Regions from separate parts of the Homo sapiens genome. Here regions 1, 2, 3 and 5 are each linked to region 4. Evidence: fine-mapped expression QTL. A gene starts in region 4. Each other region holds a variant in brackets. All regions are shown on one strand. Distances are between the middles of the regions.

Region 1 (4,096 bases), 23 kb after region 4:
CTGTTCAAGAGAGTTCCATGAGAAGCCTACTTTGCGTTTTCCATTCATGGAAGATGAAAAATGTCTGGAAAGAAACTGGTCACGGTGGGGACTCTGGAGAGGAGCTTAGAGCGGTGGACAGAGCCTTATCTGTAATGCTTTTATTTTTGTAAATATTCACGTGTTGCTTGTGAAATGTAAAATTAGTAATTAAAAAAGTGTGTGTGGCGGGGGAGGTCCCTGCAAGCTTGATATCACTCCAGAAGTGTCCCTCGGCCTCAGCAGGCCGCAGGAGGGTGGGAGCCTGGCCACCTTGACCCTCCCAGCACCTCTGAGTCCTCGGATGTGAGGCTGGGATTCTTCCTGTGTGGGCTCTGGCAGATAGGGAGTGGAAAATGCTGGCAGTTTTCTCCAGGTGTGACATCTCGTCCCCTGACCCCAGCTTCCAGGCAGAGATGGCTGTCTAGTCCCTCATGCAAGCCCCCTACACCTCTGCCCAGCATCCTGGTGGAGTTATTTTTCTGCCTGAGGCCCAGAGAGAAGAAGGCATGTTCTGGGGATCCCAGAGTGACTTAGGGCTGGAAAAGCCTGCAGTCCCCTCCTGGGGCCACCTCCCATTGTTCTTGTAGACATGGGAGACAGTGTGCAAGGCAGGCTGGGATGCTGGGAGGCAGAGGGTGGCAGTGCTCCTGGGTTATCTCCCTGCCTCCCTTGGGGGCATGAGCCACTTTCTCATGTCTGTTGCCTCAGTTTCCTTTTTTTAGATCTAGGGTCCTTGTTCCGTTGCCCAGACTGGGATGCAGTGGTACAATCAGCTCACTGCAGCCTCCACCTCCTGGGCTCAAGTGATCCTCCTGCCTCAGTCATCCCAGTAGCTGGGACTACAGGCTTGTGCCACCCCACCTGGCTAAGTTTTTCTTTTTTCTTTTTTTTTTTTAATTTTTGTACAGACAGGGGTCTCGATAGTTGCCCAGGCTGATCTCAAACTCCTGGGTTCAACTGATCCTCCCATCTCAGTCTCCCAAAGTGCTGAGATTATAGGCGTAAGCCACTGCACCTGGCCCTCAGTTTCCTCTTCTGCCAAACAGTGTGTTGTAGAGGTTTGGATCACCGTGTGTCGTAGAGGTTTGGATCACCACATGTCGTAGAGGTTTGGATCACCGCGTGTCGTAGAGGTTCAGATCACCGCGTGTCATAGAGGTTCAGATCACCGCGTGTCGTAGAGGTTCGGATCACCGCGTGTCGTAGAGCTTCGGATCACCGCGTGTCGTAGAGGTTCGGATCACCGCGTGTCATAGAGGTTTGGATCACCGCGTGTCGTAGAGGTTCGGATCACCGCGTGTCGTAGAGGTTCGGATCACCGTGTGTCGTAGAGGTTCGGATCACCGCGTGTGGTTGAGGTTCGGATCACCGCGTGTTGTAGAGGTTTAGATCACCGCGTGTTGTAGAGGTTTAGATCACCGCGTGTGGTTGAGGTTTAGATCACCGCGTGTTGTAGAGGTTTACATCACAGTGTGTTGTAGAGGTTTAGATCACCGCGTGTTGTAGAGGTTTACATCACAGTGTGTTGTAGAGGTTTAGATCACCGTGTGTTGTAGAGGTTTAGATCACCGTGTGTTGTAGAGGTTTGGATCACCGTGTGTTGTAGAGGTTTAGATCACCGCGTGTTGTAGAGGTTTACATCACAGTGTGTTGTAGAGGTTTAGATCACCGCGTGTTGTAGAGGTTTAGATCACCGCGTGTTGTAGAGGTTTAGATCACC[G/A]CGTGTTGTAGAGGTTTGGATCACCGTGTGTTGTAGAGGTTTAGATATGTGGGGTGGCACATAACGACCATTCTCTGTTCAGAAAGTCTTTTGAAAACCTCTGTGAAGAGGCTGGCGGTGACCTCAGGGTTCTCCCAGCAGAGGCCTAAGGTCAGACCTCAGGAAGAACTTCCCAGCAGAGTGAGGCATTTCTGTCTCCACTGAGACTCTGGGGAAGCAACGGCTGATGGGCTTCCTGTGCTCTGCAGGGCACCGGCAGAAGCTGGAGGACCAGACCAAGCCGTTCCCTGACCGCTTTGGGGACCTGGAACGGCTGCGCATGCGGGTGACACCGAGCACACCCAGCCCCCGAGGCTCACTCAGCACCACAAGCCACTTCAGCAGCCAGCCCCAGACCCCAATCCAAGGTACGGCACGGAGGGAGGGGCTGCAGCGGGGTGAGGTGGGGGTGGAGGGCCTCGATGTGGTCCAATCTGCCCCAGACCAAAAGCCTGTCCGAAGATCAGTCACTGCACCCCCTTGTTTTGTAGAGGAGCTGCTGGTGCTCATTGGCACCTGCAGACGGTTCCTGTGGGCTTTCTGTGTGCTAGCCATCATTCGTTCACTCAGCAAACACTGACATTACTGACACATGCCTGGTGCCTGGCCCCAGGGATCTGCATACCAGGAGTTCACTGTGCCTGGGGAAATGGGGTTAACCCCATAGTGCCCCTATTAAAATTGGGGCATGACTTGTCCAAGGAGCCGTGACAGACTCGCCCCTGCCATGTACAGTTTCCCCACCCCTGCCCCACAGCCTGCGATTTTTCATCTGAAAGTGGATTGGGGCGGATGCCTCCACCCAGGGCTGGGATGACATTCAAATGACATTACTGTACTCACACAAACTTTGCACACTGTTAAGTGACATTCCAACCCTAGAGAGGCACATAGCATTCCTGGGAAAGGTCTCCCACCCTGCCCAGAGCATCCTCCCAAACAGGAGGAGCTGAGGTGGAAGGGAAGACCGAGCTGGGGTCTCCATCTCCACTGCCTAGACGGATACAGCAAGCACAGTTGCAGCCAGGCCTCAGGCAGGTCTTCTGGAGTATCGAGGTGCCTGGCGCATAGTAGCCGCTCACTAAACGGCTGCCGGCTGCATCTCTCCTCTGTTCTCTCAGTCAGTGAGCTGGGGACATGGGAGGCTGTGTGCACAGCCGGCCCTTGGGCTAAGTGGGGTGCCAAGGGTGCTTGGTGGCCGGGTGGACAGAGGCAGGCAGCTGGCTGCCGTCACGGACTGTGCCCATTCTTTCTCAATTCCCCAGAGCCTGGTTAGAACCCCTTGGCAGATGAATGAATTGAGAGGCCTAAGAGGTTCAGAGCCACCCTCGGGTCACACAGCCCATCTGTGACCAGGTCCACAGTCTCCACAGTACCTGCTCCCAAGAACTTTCTGTACTTCTGAGGGGACAGATAAAGGGGCCTGGAACAGGGCTGCCAACCGGTCTGCCTGCCCCACCCCCTTTTCCGGTGCCACGCTGAGGTGGGGGCCGACTGGGTCTCTCTACTGACATTGTTCCAGGCATAGTGCTGCAGCCAGGGGCTGGATGCAGGCCTTCAGTGTGAAGAGAGGACCCCTCCCCTTCTGGCCTGGGCTCAGGACTTTTGGCCTTGGTCCTGCTGAGACGCCAAGGTTGGGAGAAGCCCCAGGCCCAGCCTCTCTGAGCCCAGGAGCTAGTGCATTTGAGACTCTCAGCTCTCGAGCCCAGGAGTTGGAGGTCTGCTCTCAAGAGGTAGCGGAAGGAGCCCTGCACGCTGTGCTCACGCCCACCCCTGCCGCGTAGCTGCCTCTGCTTCTGCTACCCATGGGCCAGCATCTGTCGAGGTGCAGTAGCCTGAGAGCCAGCCTTTCTCTGCCATGGACAGAGCCAGGCCAGGGGATCGGGGCTCAGCGGGGGAGCCAGAATCCAGGAGGTGGGGTGAACAGTGGCTTCCTGTCCACCAGCCCCCATGGAAGGAGAGCCCACATCTGCCCATCCACTGCTGGGTGGGCACAGCTTGGGAATCAATGCCTGGCCCCACGGCAGGCACAGCTGCTGCTTCCATCCTGGGCTGGGAGGAAAGGAGCCCAGCCTGTGTGGGGCAGTGGCTGACTTCTGCTTCTCTGCCTGCTCCCTCCTGAGGCCTGGCCCAGTCCCTCGCTAGCCCCCCACAGCACTGGGCCACAGGCAGCCAGGCATCTCCATCCTCAGGCCCATCCCCTTTGGGTGAGAGAAAGGGCCTCGGATGACCAGGACAGGGCGAGCATGAACTCTGCAGTCAGCTGGACCAGGCTAGGAATTCAGGCTCTGCCAGGCATTGGCTGTATGATCTTAG
Region 2 (4,115 bases), 30 kb after region 4:
CTCCAGGCACCTCGGAACTGAACCCATTCTCCGACCCCCGCCAGTTTGACCGCTCCTTCCCCACGCTGCCAACCCTCACGGAGAGCCGCTTCCCAGACCCCAGGATGCATTATCCCGGGGCCATGTCAGCTGCCTTCCCCTACAGCGCCACGCCCTCGGGCACGAGCATCAGCAGCCTCAGCGTGGCGGGCATGCCGGCCACCAGCCGCTTCCACCATACCTACCTCCCGCCACCCTACCCGGGGGCCCCGCAGAACCAGAGCGGGCCCTTCCAGGCCAACCCGTCCCCCTACCACCTCTACTACGGGACATCCTCTGGCTCCTACCAGTTCTCCATGGTGGCCGGCAGCAGCAGTGGGGGCGACCGCTCACCTACCCGCATGCTGGCCTCTTGCACCAGCAGCGCTGCCTCTGTCGCCGCCGGCAACCTCATGAACCCCAGCCTGGGCGGCCAGAGTGATGGCGTGGAGGCCGACGGCAGCCACAGCAACTCACCCACGGCCCTGAGCACGCCAGGCCGCATGGATGAGGCCGTGTGGCGGCCCTACTGACCGCCCTGGTGGACTCCTCCCGCTGGAGGCGGGGACCCTAACAACCTTCAAGACCAGTGATGGGCCGGCTCCGAGGCTCCGGGCGGGAATGGGACCTGCGCTCCAGGGTGGTCTCGGTCCCAGGGTGGTCCCAGCTGGTGGGAGCCTCTGGCTGCATCTGTGCAGCCACATCCTTGTACAGAGGCATAGGTTACCACCCCCACCCCGGCCCGGGATACTGCCCCCGGCCCAGATCCTGGCCGTCTCATCCCATACTTCTGTGGGGAATCAGCCTCCTGCCACCCCCCCGGAAGGACCTCACTGTCTCCAGCTATGCCCAGTGCTGCATGGGACCCATGTCTCCTGGGACAGAGGCCATCTCTCTTCCAGAGAGAGGCAGCATTGGCCCACAGGATAAGCCTCAGGCCCTGGGAAACCTCCCGACCCCTGCACCTTCGTTGGAGCCCCTGCATCCCCTGGGTCCAGCCCCCTCTGCATTTACACAGATTTGAGTCAGAACTGGAAAGTGTCCCCCACCCCCACCACCCTCGAGCGGGGTTCCCCTCATTGTACAGATGGGGCAGGACCCAGCACGCTGCTGGCAGAGATGGTTTGAGAACACATCCAAGCCAGTCCCCCCAGCCCAGCTTCCCCTCCGTTCCTAACTGTTGGCTTTCCCCCAGCCGCACGGGTCCCAGGCCCCAGAGAAGATGAGTCTATGGCATCAGGTTCTTAAACCCAGGAAAGCACCTACAGACCGGCTCCTCCATGCACTTTACCAGCTCAACGCATCCACTCTCTGTTCTCTTGGCAGGGCGGGGGAGGGGGGATAGGAGGTCCCCTTTCCCCTAGGTGGTCTCATAATTCCATTTGTGGAGAGAACAGGAGGGCCAGATAGATAGGTCCTAGCAGAAGGCATTGAGGTGAGGGATCATTTTGGGTCAGACATCAATGTCCCTGTCCCCCCTGGGTCCAGCCAAGCTGTGCCCCATCCCCCAAGCCTCCTGGGAGGATCCAGCCAAATCTTGCGACTCCTGGCACACACCTGTCTGTAACCTGTTTTGTGCTCTGAAAGCAAATAGTCCTGAGCAAAAA[A/C]AAAAAAAAAACAAAAAAACAAAAAAAAAACAAAACAGTTTTTAAAACTGATTTTAGAAAAAGAAGCTTAATCTAACGTTTTCAAACACAAGGTCTCTTACAGGTATAGTTCCGTGATTATGATAGCTCTGTGATTATAAGCAACATCCCCGCCCCCTCTCCCCCCCGCGGACCCCCAGCTGCCTCCTGAGGGTGTGGGGTTATTAGGGTCTCAATACTTTCTCAAGGGGCTACACTCCCCATCAGGCAGCATCCCACCAGCCTGCACCACAGGCTCCCCTGGGAGGACGAGGGAAACGCTGATGAGACGCTGGGCATCTCTCCTCTGTGGCTCTAGGACATCTGTCCAGGAGGCTGGGCGGAGGTGGGCAGGATGTGAGAGGTGGGGAGTACTGGCTGTGCGTGGCAGGACAGAAGCACTGTAAAGGGCTCTCCAGCCGCAGCTCAGCTGCACTGCGTTCCGAGGTGAAGTCTTGCCCCTGAATTTTGCAAAATGGGAAAGTGGGCGCTTGCCCAAGGGCCAGGCTGCATGGATTCTCACATCAGAGTTCTCTGGCCCTAGAAAGGCTTAGAAAAGGCGTAAGGGAACTCATAAAGGCTAGCAGCATGCGGTATTTTAACTTTCTGCCTCGGCCTCTGTGGATGCAGAAATCTGCCCTACAAAATGCTCTTCATTGGTTGTCTCTGTGAGAGCACTGTCCCCACCCAACCTGTCACAACGGCCAGAACCATACACCAGAGACACACTGGCAGGTTAGGCAGTCCTTCTGGTGATCCTATTCCATTCCCTCCTGCTGCGGTTTCTCTTGGCCTGTCCTCACTGGAAAAACAGTCTCCATCTCCTCAAAATAGTTGCTGACTCCCTGCACCCAAGGGGCCTCTCCATGCCTTCTTAGGAAGCAGCTATGAATCCATTGTCCTTGTAGTTTCTTCCCTCCTGTTCTCTGGTTATAGCTGGTCCCAGGTCAGCGTGGGAGGCACCTTTGGGTTCCCAGTGCCCAGCACTTTGTAGTCTCATCCCAGATTACTAACCCTTCCTGATCCTGGAGAGGCAGGGATAGTAAATAAATTGCTCTTCCTACCCCATCCCCCATCCCCTGACAAAAAGTGACGGCAGCCGTACTGAGTCTGTAAGGCCCAAAGTGGGTACAGACAGCCTGGGCTGGTAAAAGTAGGTCCTTATTTACAAGGCTGCGTTAAAGTTGTACTAGGCAAACACACTGATGTAGGAAGCACGAGGAAAGGAAGACGTTTTGATATAGTGTTACTGTGAGCCTGTCAGTAGTGGGTACCAATCTTTTGTGACATATTGTCATGCTGAGGTGTGACACCTGCTGCACTCATCTGATGTAAAACCATCCCAGAGCTGGCGAGAGGATGGAGCTGGGTGGAAACTGCTTTGCACTATCGTTTGCTTGGTGTTTGTTTTTAACGCACAACTTGCTTGTACAGTAAACTGTCTTCTGTACTATTTAACTGTAAAATGGAATTTTGACTGATTTGTTACAATAATATAACTCTGAGATGTGTGGAAGGAGTCCAGTGCCCGGTTTCTAGGGCTATGCATGGAGGTGGGGTGGGGTGGGGGAGAGGATGGAGACCTCCTGCTGTTGCCCAGGAGGAACAGGAACAGAGACACCCAGCACCTTCATCTCCTTGCTTCCAACTTCTTCAGGAATGGCCGCAGAGACCACCCTGGCCACAGGACAGCCGGTGAGGCCTGCTCCTGTATGGCTGGGACCCCAGGAGAGCATCAAATAGGTCTTCAAAGTGCCACAACCCTTCCACCAATCATGAGCGGGCTGTGAGTCTTCCCAGCCGTGTTGGGAGGAATTCCTATGCCTGTTCCTCAGATTCACATTTCGGGAGGGGGCAGAGGCAGAGGGAGAGTCCAAGTGCCTTGGTGAGAACCCCCCTCTGAGGCTCGTGTTTCAAGATCTGTGGCAAGCTAGCAGCAGTGGGGATTGGGAGTAAGCGGCAACTTCAGTGCCCCCATTTTGCAGATGAGACAACTGCGGTGCAAAGAAGGAGTGTCATCAAGGTCCATGTCTCCCTGGGGTTGTCCATGGCTGAACTGGGACCACAGCCCAACAATGGTAGCATGGGTGTGATGGTGTGGGGACCTGGCTTGACAGCCCCCCTCCCACCTTGCCAGCAAGGAGGCCTGGTCCACTTGGGATTTGTACCAACACACAGCCCAGAGCCTGGCCAGTTGGGATTTGTGAAGGGAAATTTTTACAAAACAGACCTTATTTTTGAGTGATGCCCACCGACTTCAAAAACCACTCCCAAAGCTTTGCCCTGCTCAGTTTGGTTGGTCTGCCTGAAACTCAGCTCCCAACAAGAAGCTTCCATTTCCCTAGCCCGGCATCCCCTTTTACCCAAAAGACAGCAGGTCCATCTCTGGACAGGACCTCAGCCGTGGCTACAGAACTTCTCTGTTGGTCTGCTCTGGGCAGCCTCTGCCAGGGTTGGTCCTGAAACGGCATC
Region 3 (4,115 bases), 180 kb after region 4:
TTTAAATTCCAGCCCATAAAACTGAACTCCGCAAAGGGATTACTTTCTGTTTTTTGATTTGATTGTTTTTGAGACAGAGTCTTGCTCTTGTCCCTCAGGCTGGAGTGCAATGGCACAATCTCGGCTCACTGCAATCTCCGCTTCCCGGGTTCAAGTGATTCTCCTGCCTCAGACTCCCGAGTAGCCGGGATTACAGGCGCCCGCCACCACGACCGGCTAATTTTTGTATTTTTAGTAGAGACGGGGTTTCGCCATGTTGGCCAAGCTGGATGGAGAAACCCCATCTCTATTACTCTCATTTGTGGTTCAAGAGTTAATATTTAGTTTTACCCAAACAAAAATCTTGGTTCCCCAAATTCTGGACATAGCCAAGAAGAAACACTAGTAAATATATAAAAGACTGGCACGGTGGCTCACGCCTGTAATCCCAGCACTTTGGGAGGCCGAGCGGGTGGATCACTAGGTCAGGAGTTCAAGACCAGCCTGGCCAACATAGTGAAACCCCGTCTCTACTACAAATACAAATTAGCTCCTCATCTCTACTAAAAATACAAAAAATTAGCTGGCCATGGTGGCGGGTGCCTGTAACCCCAGCTACTCGGGAGTCTGCGGCAGGAGAATCGCTTGAACTCGGGAGACAGAGGTTGCAGTGAGCCAAGATCGTGCCACTGCACTCCAGCCCGGGTAACAGTGCAAGACTCCATCTCAAAAAAAAAAAAAAAAAAAAGACTGGAAGTATTAAATGGAGAAAAAAAAGAGGTGAGTACATAAAATTACACTGGGTTTGGAGACTGGAGGCTAGAGAAATCAGGATGAAGAACCATGCTTTGATGCTCCAACCATCGGGATCTCAGTAAGTGGTTTCTAATTCCAAAGCATGGTAGAGACATACATTGACAACAAAATGCTCAACAACAGAATTCTCTGAAAGAAGGGCACAATCTCATTTCAAACATTTGGCATCCTCTTAAGTTGCAGGCACTCTGAACCATATGCACACCCTATCCTCAAGGAATTTACTGTCTATCTAGTAGGGGAGATCTGCCTATAAATATATATTCATACAAAATTATACACAACTAGCATTTATTTGCTTACTGTGTACTAGACATTGTTCTAAGATTGTTGCATACTACATATATTAATTTATCCCATAGGACTGTTCTACTAATATCCCAACTGTGCAGATGTGGCACAGACAGGTTTAAGTGATGTATCCTGGGATACACAATTAGTAACTGGACATATTGGATTAGAAACTCAGGCAGTAGGCCAGGCTCGGTGGCTCACGCCTGTAATCCCAGCACTTTTGGAGGCCAAGGCAGGCTGATCACCTGAGGTCAGGAGTTCGAGACAAGCCTGACCAACATGGAGAAACCTTGTCTCTACTAAAAATACAAAATTAGCCAGGTGTGGTGGTGCACACCTGTAGTCCCAGCCACTCGGGAGGCTGAGGGGTAACAAGAGCGAAACTCCGTCTTAAAAAAAAAAAAAAAAAGAAAGAAAGAAAGAAAGAAAGAAACCCAGATTACAAGGGACCTTATGCCCTTGCTAAAAGGTCTCAAATATACCGTATCTGTTGGTGGTTCCCAGCTGGAAATATATACACCTACCAGGCTCCTGAGTGGGGTAGAGAGCATCTCCACTGTTGAGGATGATTGCCATTATAAGCCTTTGTTGTTTTCCTCCCGAGACAGGGTCTTGTTCTGTCACCCAGATTGGAGTGCAGGTACATGATCATAAGCTCACTGCAGCCTCGAACTCCTGGGCTCAAACAATCCTCCCACCCGCAGCCTCTAGGGCTAGGGCTGCAGGCGTGGGCCACCAGGCCCAGCTTAGTTACTTACTTATTTATTTAGAGATAGGGTCTCACCCAAGCTGGAGTGCAGTGGCACGATCACGGCTCACAGCCAACCTCTGCCTCCCAGGCTAAAGGAATCCTCCCACCTCAGCTGGGACCACAGGCATGTATCACCACACCCAGCTAATTTTTTATATTTTTTGTAGAGATGGGGTTTTGCTACGTTGCCCAGGCTGGTCTCGAACTCCTAGGCTCAAGAGATCCGCCTGCCTCAGCCTCCCAAAGTACTGGGATTACAGGCGTGAGCCACTGTGCCTGGCAATTTTTTTAATAGTTTTTGTAGAGACAGGGTCTCGCCATGTTGCCCAGGCTGGTCTAGAACTCCTGCGCTCAAAAGATTCATCCTCCTTGGCCTCCTACAGTGCTAGGATTACAGGCGTGAGCCACCACAGCCCAGCTGCCTTTTTTACTTTTGAGAGGGCATCCTATCTATCCTCCAGATGTTGAGGGTAAAACAAAACAAAAACAAACCAAAAAAACCATCCTGCTGTTATATAGATGACAG[G/A]GAGTTAATGGGCTCACAGGCAGACAACTCCAAAAACTACTCACAAGGAAGGAAATGCAGCTGTGAGTTCAGTCATACTATTTGAGAAGGTGCTCATCTCTCTCTCTTAAATGTGAAGCTCAGTGCTAGCTAGACAGGTAGGCTCAAAGCCCCATTACATCTCTTGGCCTTTCCCCTAGCGCCACCACCAAATTTCTAATTTCCATACATGCTATGTGCTTCAACTGTAAATAGTTTTCTTTTACAAACTCAGATACCTCTTGGCAGGTTAACACTGTTCAACATACCACTCTGGACAACCACAGCCTCTGCACCCTCTCTACTTTCTTTTTTTTTTTTTTAATTTTTATTTTTTGAGATGGAGTCTTGCTCTGTCACCCAGGCTGGGGTGCAGTGGCACTATCTCGGCTCACTGCAACCACCGCCTCCCAGGTTCAAGCAATTCTCCTGCCTCAGTCTCCCGAGTAGCTGGGATTACAGCCATGCACCACTATGCGTGGCTAATTTTTGTATTTTTAGTAGAAATGCGGTTTCGCCATGTTGCCCAGGCTGGTCTCAACATCAAGTGATCCACCCCCCTCCGCCTCCCAAAAGGCTGGGATTACAGGAGTGTGCCACCACACCTGGTCCACTGCTTTCAAAATAACTATATTTACAAGGGTATTTCCCCCATTTGCATTTCCCACACGTAGGTTTTGAGAAGAGATCAAGAATGCCCTTTACCACATTTTACCTGTCCTTTTTTCCCCTTTCAAACAAACTGGTCTAGGGGCCAAGCACAGAGGCTCAAGCCTGTAATCCCAGCACTTTGGGAGGCCAAGGCAGGCAGATCACTTAAGGTCAGGAGTTTGAGACCAGCCTGGCCAACATGGTAAAACCCAGTCTCTTCTAAAATACAAAAATCAGCCAGGCGTAGTGGTGCATGCGCTCCTCGGAAGGCAAAGGCAGAAGAATCACTTCAACCTGGGAGGCAGAGGGTGCAGTGAGCCGAGATCGCGCCACTGCACTCCAGCAGCCAGGGTGACAGAGCGAGACACCATCTCATTAAAAAAAAAAAAAAAAAAAAAAACAAAAAACCTGATCTGTATCAGTGCAAAGTTTGCCTATGTTGAATCACTGGGTAGCAGAAAACATTTCTTATTTCACAAATGAGACAAACAAGGCTTAAAGAGTGAAAACAAACTGCCTAGGGTCACCCAACCAAGGAGTAAAGAACTGTGACTTGAACCCTGATTCTCTGCCACCAAGCCCAATGAGAAAGGCTTACAACTAGTGGTAGGAAGGATGATTTTCAGTGGTTCTCAACACAAATATGAAAAACAGAAAGGGGATGCAAGTGACTCAAGTTTGGAAAACTGCACACGCCCCTCTGCTATTCTAACTGAAAGATGAAATTAATAGTAAGCAGGGCATTAATCACTGATCTCTTCCTAATTCAGATACTTAATTTTTCTTGTCTTCTTTGATTAGCTCCTCCAATAGAATAATAGAATACTGAATAGAGCCATAACTGATAATAGCTTTATCTTTTTTTTTTTTTTTTTGAGACGAAGTCTCACTCTGTCGCCCAGGCTGGAGTGCAGTGACTTGATCTTGGCTCACTCCAACCTTTGCCTCCCCGGTTCAAGCGATTCTCATGCCTCAGCCTCCCGAATAGCTGGGCCCACCACCATGCCTGGCTAATTTTTCTATTTTTAGTAGAGACAGGGTTTCACCATGTTGGCCAGGCTGGTCTCGAACTCCTGGCCT
Region 4 (4,115 bases):
GGAAGCAGGTGGAAATTGGGAACAAGCTAGCCTGTTCTGTGGGTCTTCCCCGGGTGCCTGAAAACGCGAAGACAGAAGGCGTCCATCTTATCAGAGGTGAGGAAGGCGGCCTTGGTTTGACACAAAGCCATCGGTTTGTCTGAGACCTGGCCGCATGGATGGCAAGGAAAGGGCAGCTCCTCGGGGGCGGTCGCCGCGCCTGCACCCGGGGCCGCAGCTGGCGCGCATCTGTAGCCCGGCCGGGCCCGCACCTCCGCGGCTGGCAGGGCGCGGGCGCCAACTAGCGGCGGCTCCCGCCACTGTGCCTGCCAGGCGGCCCCGCGACCTTGGTCTGGGGACCCAAGGGCCTGCACCCGCCCCCCCTCCCCCCGCCGCCCTGGTCCCTTGGATCTGGTGCCCACGGGGAGCCAGCGCCCTACGGAGAGCCGGAGCCGTGCCGGGCCCTGCGCCAGGTGCCAGGGCCCACAAGAGTCCCTCATTCTCTGGAAACTTGTCTGTGAACCCATCGTAAGCGGAGAGGGAGAAATCAGGCGGAGGAACAAGCAAAGGGCACGGTGCAAACCGAAACCATTCGACAAATGGAATTTACCACCACCTGAAACAGCGGGTCATGGTCCCGCAACCTGCTCGAGGGCAGCACGTGTTGCCCGCCCCCGGCCAGGGCCCTACCTGGCCACGACGCGCTGCGCCTTCTCGGAGACGTTCCCGGAGGTGGGAGCGCCCAGGCTGGATCACTCGCTTTCCTCTAGTTCTGCTGCTCGTGCCAGCGCGTCCGAGGGCGCGCGGGCCTGGGTCCGCAATCGACAACTGCCAGGCGCAGGCTCTCTTAAAAGGTTCAGTAAGGGACCTTTGCCGTCCTTCCTTTCGACACGGCCTGAGGGCGTGCTGTGAGGTCCCGAGGTGGGTAGGGGCCAGCTCTCCCGGTGGTCGGGGTGAGTCCAGAGTCCTTCGCCCCTGGAGCGCACGCGGGGCTTGATTTCGTTTGGCAACGACGAAATGGCGCGCGCTGAGCAGGGGTCAGATCCATGATGAGATCTTGCGGCCACCGTCGGATCCTAAGCTTCTTTGCTTCCGAGGCTTGGAATTCATTGTTTTGCACCTGTCGAGAGCCGGAGGCAACGAAAATCTAGCCCCGTCTCCAAAGCGGCGGGGAGGCTCAGCACGCGTTCGTTCCCCAGAGTCTAGGGAGGTGTCTGGGGCGATAATTCGGAATGATTGTGGCTTGATCTTTCCCGTTGCCCTCCCAACTGTAGCCGGCCCCTAGGTCTGCTCGACAGACTTAGGAGGCGGGAGAGGAAGGGGTGATTTGCAGTGAAGCCCAGGAGAGGTTGGGCCACGCGGCTGGGAGTGGGAGCGGGGACCCGGAGCCGGGCGGGCAGGCAGTGCCTTGGCGAAGCTGTCCGCGGTCCCTGCGGCGCAGCCGGAGCGCACGGGCCCAAGAAGAAGTGGGGTTGGACCCGCAGAGGCCACTTTCCACCCGCATGGAGAAAGAAAATTCTCTCCTCTGAAAGCGAGGGCCCTTAGCTTTGCAGCCACTGCTGTTTTTCTTTTGCCACCGACGCGCGTACCGTTTCACGATGCAGGACCGTGGTTACATGCGTAAAGGAAAAAAAGAAAAACGCATTTTGCAGGCCTCGTCGTGTTTTTCAAAGAGCCACAGGCCGCCACAACGAAGAACGACGCCGCGAGGCCTGCAAGATCCTGAAACTTGTTTTGAGGGGAGAGCAGAGAGGAAAGGGGTTGTTGGCCCCAGGCTACTTAGGGTCCCTAGGAGACTCCCTTCCGCCTGTCCCCGGTTTGGCACAGGGGCCACCGAGGCTGGGACCAAAGCCGCGCAGGGCTGGGAGCAGCAAAGGCCGCCGGCCGGGCGTGGACGACGCGCAAAATCCCGTGTGGGGTGGAGGCTCTTGGGTCAGAATAATGTGCGGGACGAGGGAGGTGAGTAACCTCTTTGGGGCGGCTCCCAGTGCGGCGTCACCGGCCCTGAGACCCCGCGGCCCCCAGCCCGGGGTTGCAGAAGTCACAGGCCCGAAGCAGCAAGAGCTGGGGAAGCCCGGCCGCGGCCAGCGGGGAGGAGGAGCGAAGGGGTTGCGCCCCAGCGTCAGGGAGCTACGACCCGAGAGAGGGCGGCAAGGGCGCCTTCCGTGGGACCCGGACGTTCTAAGCAAATTTCTAGCATTTGCCCCGGGCTCCCAGAGCTCTCGGGGGCCCTGGGCTGTGGCACTGGGGCCTCCTCCGCGGGGTGGCGCCTTCCGCCCCTCCCCGTTGGGCGGCCTCCGGCAGGCCCCGTTCCTCCCCGCGAACGCCACCGAGGTGCCCGCGATGGGGGCTCCGCCGATTGGCTGTGCGACGCGTCGCTCCGCCAGCCCCGCCCCGCGGGCCCCGGGGGTACTAACCCCGCGCGGGCGGCCGCGGCCCCGCCACTTGATTCTGGAGGATTTGTTCTGGGGCTGCGGCCGCGGAGTCGGGGCGGCCGCGGGCGAGCTTCGGGGCGGGAGGCGGCGGCAGCGGCACAGCCCCGCGCGGGCCCCGCCGCGGCCCAGGCAGCCGGGACAGCCACGAGGGGCGGCCGCACGCGGGGCCGCGCGCCGAGGATGCGGGACTAGCCGGGCAGGCTGCGGGCGGCCGTCGGGCCAGCGAGGCCTCGCAGCGGGCGGGCCCTGGCGAGTAGTGGCCGGGCGCCGCCCCCTGCGCCCTGAGGCCCGGGCCCCGCCGCTTCTGCTTTCCCGCTTCTCGCGGCAGCGGCGGCCGAGGAGGCGCCCGCGCCGGCCGCCCCCGGGGGAAGCCGCGCCGTCTCCGCCTGCCCGGCGCCCTGACGGCCGCTGTTATGCGTATTCCCGTAGACCCAAGCACCAGCCGCCGCTTCACACCTCCCTCCCCGGCCTTCCCCTGCGGCGGCGGCGGCGGCAAGATGGGCGAGAACAGCGGCGCGCTGAGCGCGCAGGCGGCCGTGGGGCCCGGAGGGCGCGCCCGGCCCGAGGTGCGCTCGATGGTGGACGTGCTGGCGGACCACGCAGGCGAGCTCGTGCGCACCGACAGCCCCAACTTCCTCTGCTCCGTGCTGCCCTCGCACTGGCGCTGCAACAAGACGCTGCCCGTCGCCTTCAAGGTGAGTGCGGGACCCGGGGCGGGAGGGCGCCGGCCCTGGGGCTCCGGGCGTCTGAGCTGCGGGAGCCAGAGCCTCGGGAGCAGTGGGGATGGGAGGTGCCCGAGACGCCGCGGCGACACCCGGGCACCCGGTTCAGTCTGGCTGCGCGCTCGGCTCCGGGACCTCGGCGTTCCGTTTTGGATGCGCCCTGCAGGAATGACTTTTAACGGGGTTGCCCCGCTCCACCTGGGTTTTGGGGCGCCTTGCGTAGAGACGTTGGTGCGGAAATGGGCGGATGGGGTTTTGCGCCCCCCTAACCCGGATCGCTCAGATACAGCCCTGCGGGTAACGGAGAAGAGGATCCCGGGACAGGGGCAAGGACACCGCGGGTGGGGTGCGAACGGTGAAAGGGCCTACCCTCCGCCTCCAGCACCCCTCCTCCCGCGCCGCTTCGCAAAAGCTTCCTGCTCACACCCTCGGGCTTCCGAAATTTTACCGGACGGCGCTAGGCCGGGATCGGGGCACTGCTCTCCAGACGTTTGCTCGGGGATATTATGCGTCCCGAATGGCGAGTTGAGATTGGGGGACCCCTAACCCTGGCAGCCCCCAGCCATTTAGAGGACCTTTTTCTTTATGCCAGGGAGTAGGCGACTGTTTCATTTTCATTTTTTTAAGGGGGCAGCGAGATGAAACGAAAACGCCTCGGTTTTCCCCTAAACCTCTCACAGCTGCCGTGAGAAAAGGGCAGGGCAGGAAGGGCCGGCGGCTGGGGGTGGTGCTGCCCGAGGTGGCTGGAAGCTGAGGCCGTCCCTGCTCCCATTAAGACGACTCTAAATGGGAAAAAAAGGAAGAGTGGCTCTTTGAGGTCTCCCGGGTGACATCTTAAAATACCAGTGGGGGAAATCTCGCCGGGAGGGGCGGGAGGCCCGTGTGACTTTAATCGTCAGATCGGAGGTTTTACTGTCACTTGGAGCTTAAAAGGAGTCTTTGAAATTAAAAGAAGACAGGATGTTGACAGGAAATCTGG
Region 5 (4,115 bases), 73 kb after region 4:
AGGTAGAGGTTGCAGTAAGCCAAGATCATGCCACTGCGCTCCAGCCTGGGTGTTAGAGCAAAACTAAAAAAATATTATGGGCCAGGCACATTGGTTCACGTCTGTAATCTCAGCACTTTGGGAGGCTGAGGCAGGAGGATTGCTTGAGCCCCGGAGTTCAAGGCCAGCCTGGGCAACATGGTGAAACCTCATCTCTATAAATAAATAAATAAATAAATAAATAAATAAATAAATATGTGTGTGTGTGTGTGTGTGTATTAATTAAAATTAGCTGGGCAGCCGGCATTATGGCGTGCACCTGAGGTCCCATCAAGTTGGGAGGCTGAAGTGGGAGAATCACCTAATCCTAGGAAGTCAAGGCTGCAGTGAGCCGAGATTGTGCCACTTCACCCCAGCCTGGGTGACACAATGTTGAATTAGTGAAATGTCAAAATGTTTACAGCTTACTTTGAAATGTTTTGGAATAGACAGATAAAACAAATACAGCAAGTGTCAGCAGCTATTACATCTGGTTGGTGGCTGCGTGGATACTTGTATGGAGATTTGTTAGATGACTCCTGCACCTTTTCTGTATGTTTGAAAATTTTCATAATGAAAATGTCTACATAATTTCAGGTGAGAAATAGCCTCCAGGGTCACCTCAGTTCTCTTGTTCCCTCCCGACCCTGCACTTCTGTCTTTACCTCCAAGAGGAATGCCCCTGGGCACACCCCTGTCTCCTTTGGGTGTGGGGGCAGGGGTCCTCGCAGGGTGACACATTAGAGCCACTCAGAAGGGTGGGCCATTCACTGCCTCTGATTGTGCCTCCTGGAGCAGGTGACGTTGTCCTGCTCATGTCCCCCTCATCTCCTCAACCTCAGGGATACTCCTTTTGGAGTGTGAAGCTCTACAGAAAGATGTTCCTTGCTTATTTTGTATAATTAAAAAAAGGAGAAAAAGTAGACAAGTCCAACTGTCTGTCCATCAATAGGAAATTGGTGGCAAAATTTCACAGCTATGTGTTAGTACATCCCGACATGCAGGTATGTCCGTGATACTGTGAAGAAAATAGCAACTTGCAAACACTCTGTATGATGTGATGGTTTAAAAAGAAAACATGGGCCAGGTGTGGTGGCTCGTGCCTGTAATCCCAGCACTTTGGGAGGCCAAGGTGGGAGGATCACCTGAGCCTAGGAGGTGGAGGTTGCAGTGAGCCATGATCGCACCACTGTGCTCCAACCTGGGTGACAGAGCAAGATCCTGTCTCAAAAAACAAACAAACAAACAAACAAAAACCTAAAGAAAAGTAAAAAGAAAACACTATATGCATAATCATGATGTATTTCTAAAGAATGATCTGGAAGGTGGCCTAGGGAAGGAACTGTTCACAGTGGTTTCTTCTGGAGAGTGAGATTAAGTGGGGCAGGAGAAACTTTCACTTTTCATGTCAAACATGCCTCCATTTTTGGAATCTCTTTACAATTCTAATAGCACACATCTCAGAGCACTTATTACATTTCAGGCACTGTAATGATATCTAGTACTCACATAGCACCTACTATGTGCCAAGCACTGTTCTAAGGGCTTCACACATATTAACTCATTGAATCTGCACACAATTTATTTGATGTTATGATCATCTTTCCCAGGTTAAAGATAAGGGATGGCCGGGCATGCTGGCTCACTCCTGTAATCCCATTGCTTTGGGAGGATCATTTGAGACCAGGAGTTGGAGACCAACTTGGACAACATATTGAGATCCCGTATCTACAAAATATTTGAAAATTAGCCAGTTGTGGTAGCACTCACCTGTAGTCCCAGCTACTTGGGAGGCTGAGGTGGGAGGATCGATTGAGCCCAGGAGGTCAAGGCTGCTGTGAGCCATGATGGGGCCACTGTACTCCAGCCTGGGCAATAGAGCAAGACCTTGTCTCAAAAAAAAAAAAAAAAAAAAAAGAAAGAAAGAAAGAAAAAATAAAAGGAAAGGAAAGGAAAAAAAAAAAAAGAAAAAACTGAGGCACAGAGTAGTTGAGTAACTTGCTCAAGGTCACACAGCCAGGGATTTAAACCTGGACAGTCCCTCTCTACTGATAGTGCCATTACAACTCTATTCTGTTGCCTCAGAGGCCTTGTTTCATTGGATCCTCACAACAGCTCCCCCAGCAGGTCCTTGCCTCACTCAAGTACTCAAAGAGCAGCTGAGGAGGCTGACAAGACACAGTTCAGGGGCGAAGGCAATTGAAGGCTGGCGTGAGGTTTGTCCTCTTCTCTTCTTAGCAGAAGGAGAGGACCCCAGAGAAATAAACACCTACACATGCATGAGGTCCCACCAGCAGCAAAGCACCTTCTCTTCCACGGACGCCTCTCATGACACACAGTGTTAGACCTGGAAGTCAAGGGGCCCAGCTGCTCACTTAACAGATAAGGACACTGAAGCCCAGAAACAAGAAATGGCCAAAGTCCGGATGAGTTTGGGATGGCCACT[C/A]CCTAAGGCCAGGGACTTGCCGGGGAAAGGGGGCAAATGCAGGGCAGAACTGTCCCCCTCAAGGCTCCTGGTCTTACCTTCTGCAGGTGGCGAGGACTGAGTCTTGAAGTCCTATCTGTCTCCACACATGCAGCAAAAGTGGCCCGTTTGGGGACCCCTGTCCAGCACTCACTCTACCCCTCGCTGGGGCCTGGACAGAGGTGTCACACTGCCCCGGAGCCACCCCATAGAATTCTGAGAATAAGAAGTGGTCCGACACCCAGGAGGAGACACACCCAAATGTTCACAGTCACAGATCTGGGGTGTGAAATTGCGGGTGATTTTTATTTCCTTCTTTGTACTTTCCAAATTTTTCAGCGGTGAACGTGCATCGCTATTATAATTAGAAAAAAAAAAAACAGATTGGACTTTTTTTTCTTCAGGAGAAACCAAGGACATATCACAGGAAGTATTTCAGCCAGTAAGTGTCAAATGTGCGAACCAAGAAGGGGAAATGGGAGAGGCAGAGAGGTGGAAAACCAGCATTTGCTGGGCGCCTGCACTGCAGGAACTGTGGTGCCGGGAAGGCGGCATCGCGGCCTCTTCAATCCTCCCAGCTACCCTGGGAGGTTGGTGCTGTGATCTCTGTTTACCAATGGGGATACTGAGGCACAAGAAGGAAAGCAGCTTGCCCAAGTTCACCCAGCCAGCACATGGTAGAGCTAAAATTTGAACCAGACTGTCTTCTTACAAGGCCGCTGTCCTCTCCACCTCCCCATGCTGCCTTTCCAAGAGGTGGTAGAAAACGCAATTTCAAAACCAGTTTGGGCCGGGCACGGTGGCTCATGCCTATAATCCCAGCCCTCTGGGAGGCCGAGGCGGGAGGATCACTTGAGGTCAGGAGTTTGAGACCAGCCTGGCCAACATGGTGAAACCCCATCTCTACTGAAAATATAAAAATTAGCCAGGCGTGGTGGCAGGTGCCTGTAATCCCAGCTACTCAGGAGACTGAGGCAGGAGAATCGCTTGAACATGGGAGGCAGAGGTTGCAGTGAGCTAAGATCACACCACTGCACTCTAGCCTGGGTGACAGAGCAAGACTCCATCTCAGAAAGCAAACAAACAATCAAACAAAAAAACAGTTTGGTTTAAAACCATCCAGCAGAGGACCTGTTATCCAGGGCCTCCCAGAAAAGAGCCTCCAGTCTTCACTATGGAAGGTCTCCTCCAGGCAGCATGGTATTGAAGCCCAGAACAGTGCCTGGTGCTTATTATTTGCCATTATTTTGATGACAGAGCGTCATTTTCATGTTCTGGCACCCTGCTCTGTCTGGCGGCATTAAGGTCTAATGTAGATGGAGCTGAAGTGGACTTGGTCTACCATTGGCTTGCTAGTAGCACTGAAAATTGGTACAATCCGAAGAAATAGCCACAAATGGGTTGAGATCTTTTGACTCACGAGTTCCATTCCCAGGGACAGATTTCTAAGAACTACTTCAGAAACAAGAAGCTGTGTGCACAAGTATGTTCGTATCAGTATTAACTACAAAATTTACTCATCTACTACAAAATCAACTCATTAAATTTGCAAAAAATTTACAATGCAACACTGTGAGGGGAGATGCTATAAAACGTGATCTTTTACAATAGATGGTGGTCACCAGCCTCTAAA

Direction of the effects. Alleles are on the strand shown, and positions count from the first base shown. SD is a standard deviation of normalised expression in the study named. Not every link is listed here.
With allele A in place of G in region 1, the expression in testis of the gene that starts at base 2,420 in region 4 is higher (moderate effect, 0.59 SD a copy in GTEx).

The links. PIP is the estimated chance that this variant, and not a neighbour inherited with it, causes the effect.
Region 1: its variant is fine-mapped to the expression of RUNX3 in testis (GTEx, PIP above 0.99).
Region 2: its variant is fine-mapped to the expression of RUNX3 in whole blood (INTERVAL, PIP above 0.99).
Region 3: its variant is fine-mapped to the expression of RUNX3 in whole blood (TOPMed, PIP above 0.99).
Region 5: its variant is fine-mapped to the expression of RUNX3 in whole blood (TOPMed, PIP above 0.99).

What each region holds. Positions count from the first base shown.
Region 1 is chr1:24,905,311-24,909,406 of GRCh38, reverse strand. RUNX3 (RUNX family transcription factor 3) reads left to right here. Exons shown (of 5, transcript NM_004350.3): 4 at 1,990-2,148. Among named protein-coding and RNA genes, the nearest start is that of MIR6731, 12 kb to the left of the region's middle. The variant G/A (reference allele first, on the strand shown) is at 1,742.
Region 2 is chr1:24,898,558-24,902,672 of GRCh38, reverse strand. RUNX3 (RUNX family transcription factor 3) reads left to right here. Exons shown (of 5, transcript NM_004350.3): 5 at 7-3,162. The coding sequence ends at 551. Among named protein-coding and RNA genes, the nearest start is that of MIR6731, 19 kb to the left of the region's middle. RefSeq lists enhancers at 276-345, 426-495, 826-1,275, 2,043-2,092. The variant A/C (reference allele first, on the strand shown) is at 1,626.
Region 3 is chr1:24,747,820-24,751,934 of GRCh38, reverse strand. The region is part of intron 1 of CLIC4 (chloride intracellular channel 4); the gene reads right to left. Among named protein-coding and RNA genes, the nearest start is that of CLIC4, 4.4 kb to the right of the region's middle. RefSeq lists a silencer at 2,376-2,455. The variant G/A (reference allele first, on the strand shown) is at 2,367.
Region 4 is chr1:24,928,581-24,932,695 of GRCh38, reverse strand. It overlaps RUNX3 (RUNX family transcription factor 3), which reads left to right and starts at 2,420. Exons shown (of 5, transcript NM_004350.3): 1 at 2,420-3,109. The coding sequence starts at 2,828. RUNX3-AS1 (RUNX3 antisense RNA 1) reads right to left here and starts at 2,239. Exons shown (of 4, transcript NR_183341.1): 1 at 670-2,239. RefSeq lists silencers at 182-401, 2,072-2,541, 2,742-3,181 and enhancers at 717-1,306, 2,746-3,479, 3,652-3,831, 3,480-4,115.
Region 5 is chr1:24,855,893-24,860,007 of GRCh38, reverse strand. It overlaps LOC105376876 (a long non-coding RNA gene), which reads right to left and starts at 2,926. Exons shown (of 3, transcript XR_947082.3): 1 at 2,542-2,926. The variant C/A (reference allele first, on the strand shown) is at 2,465.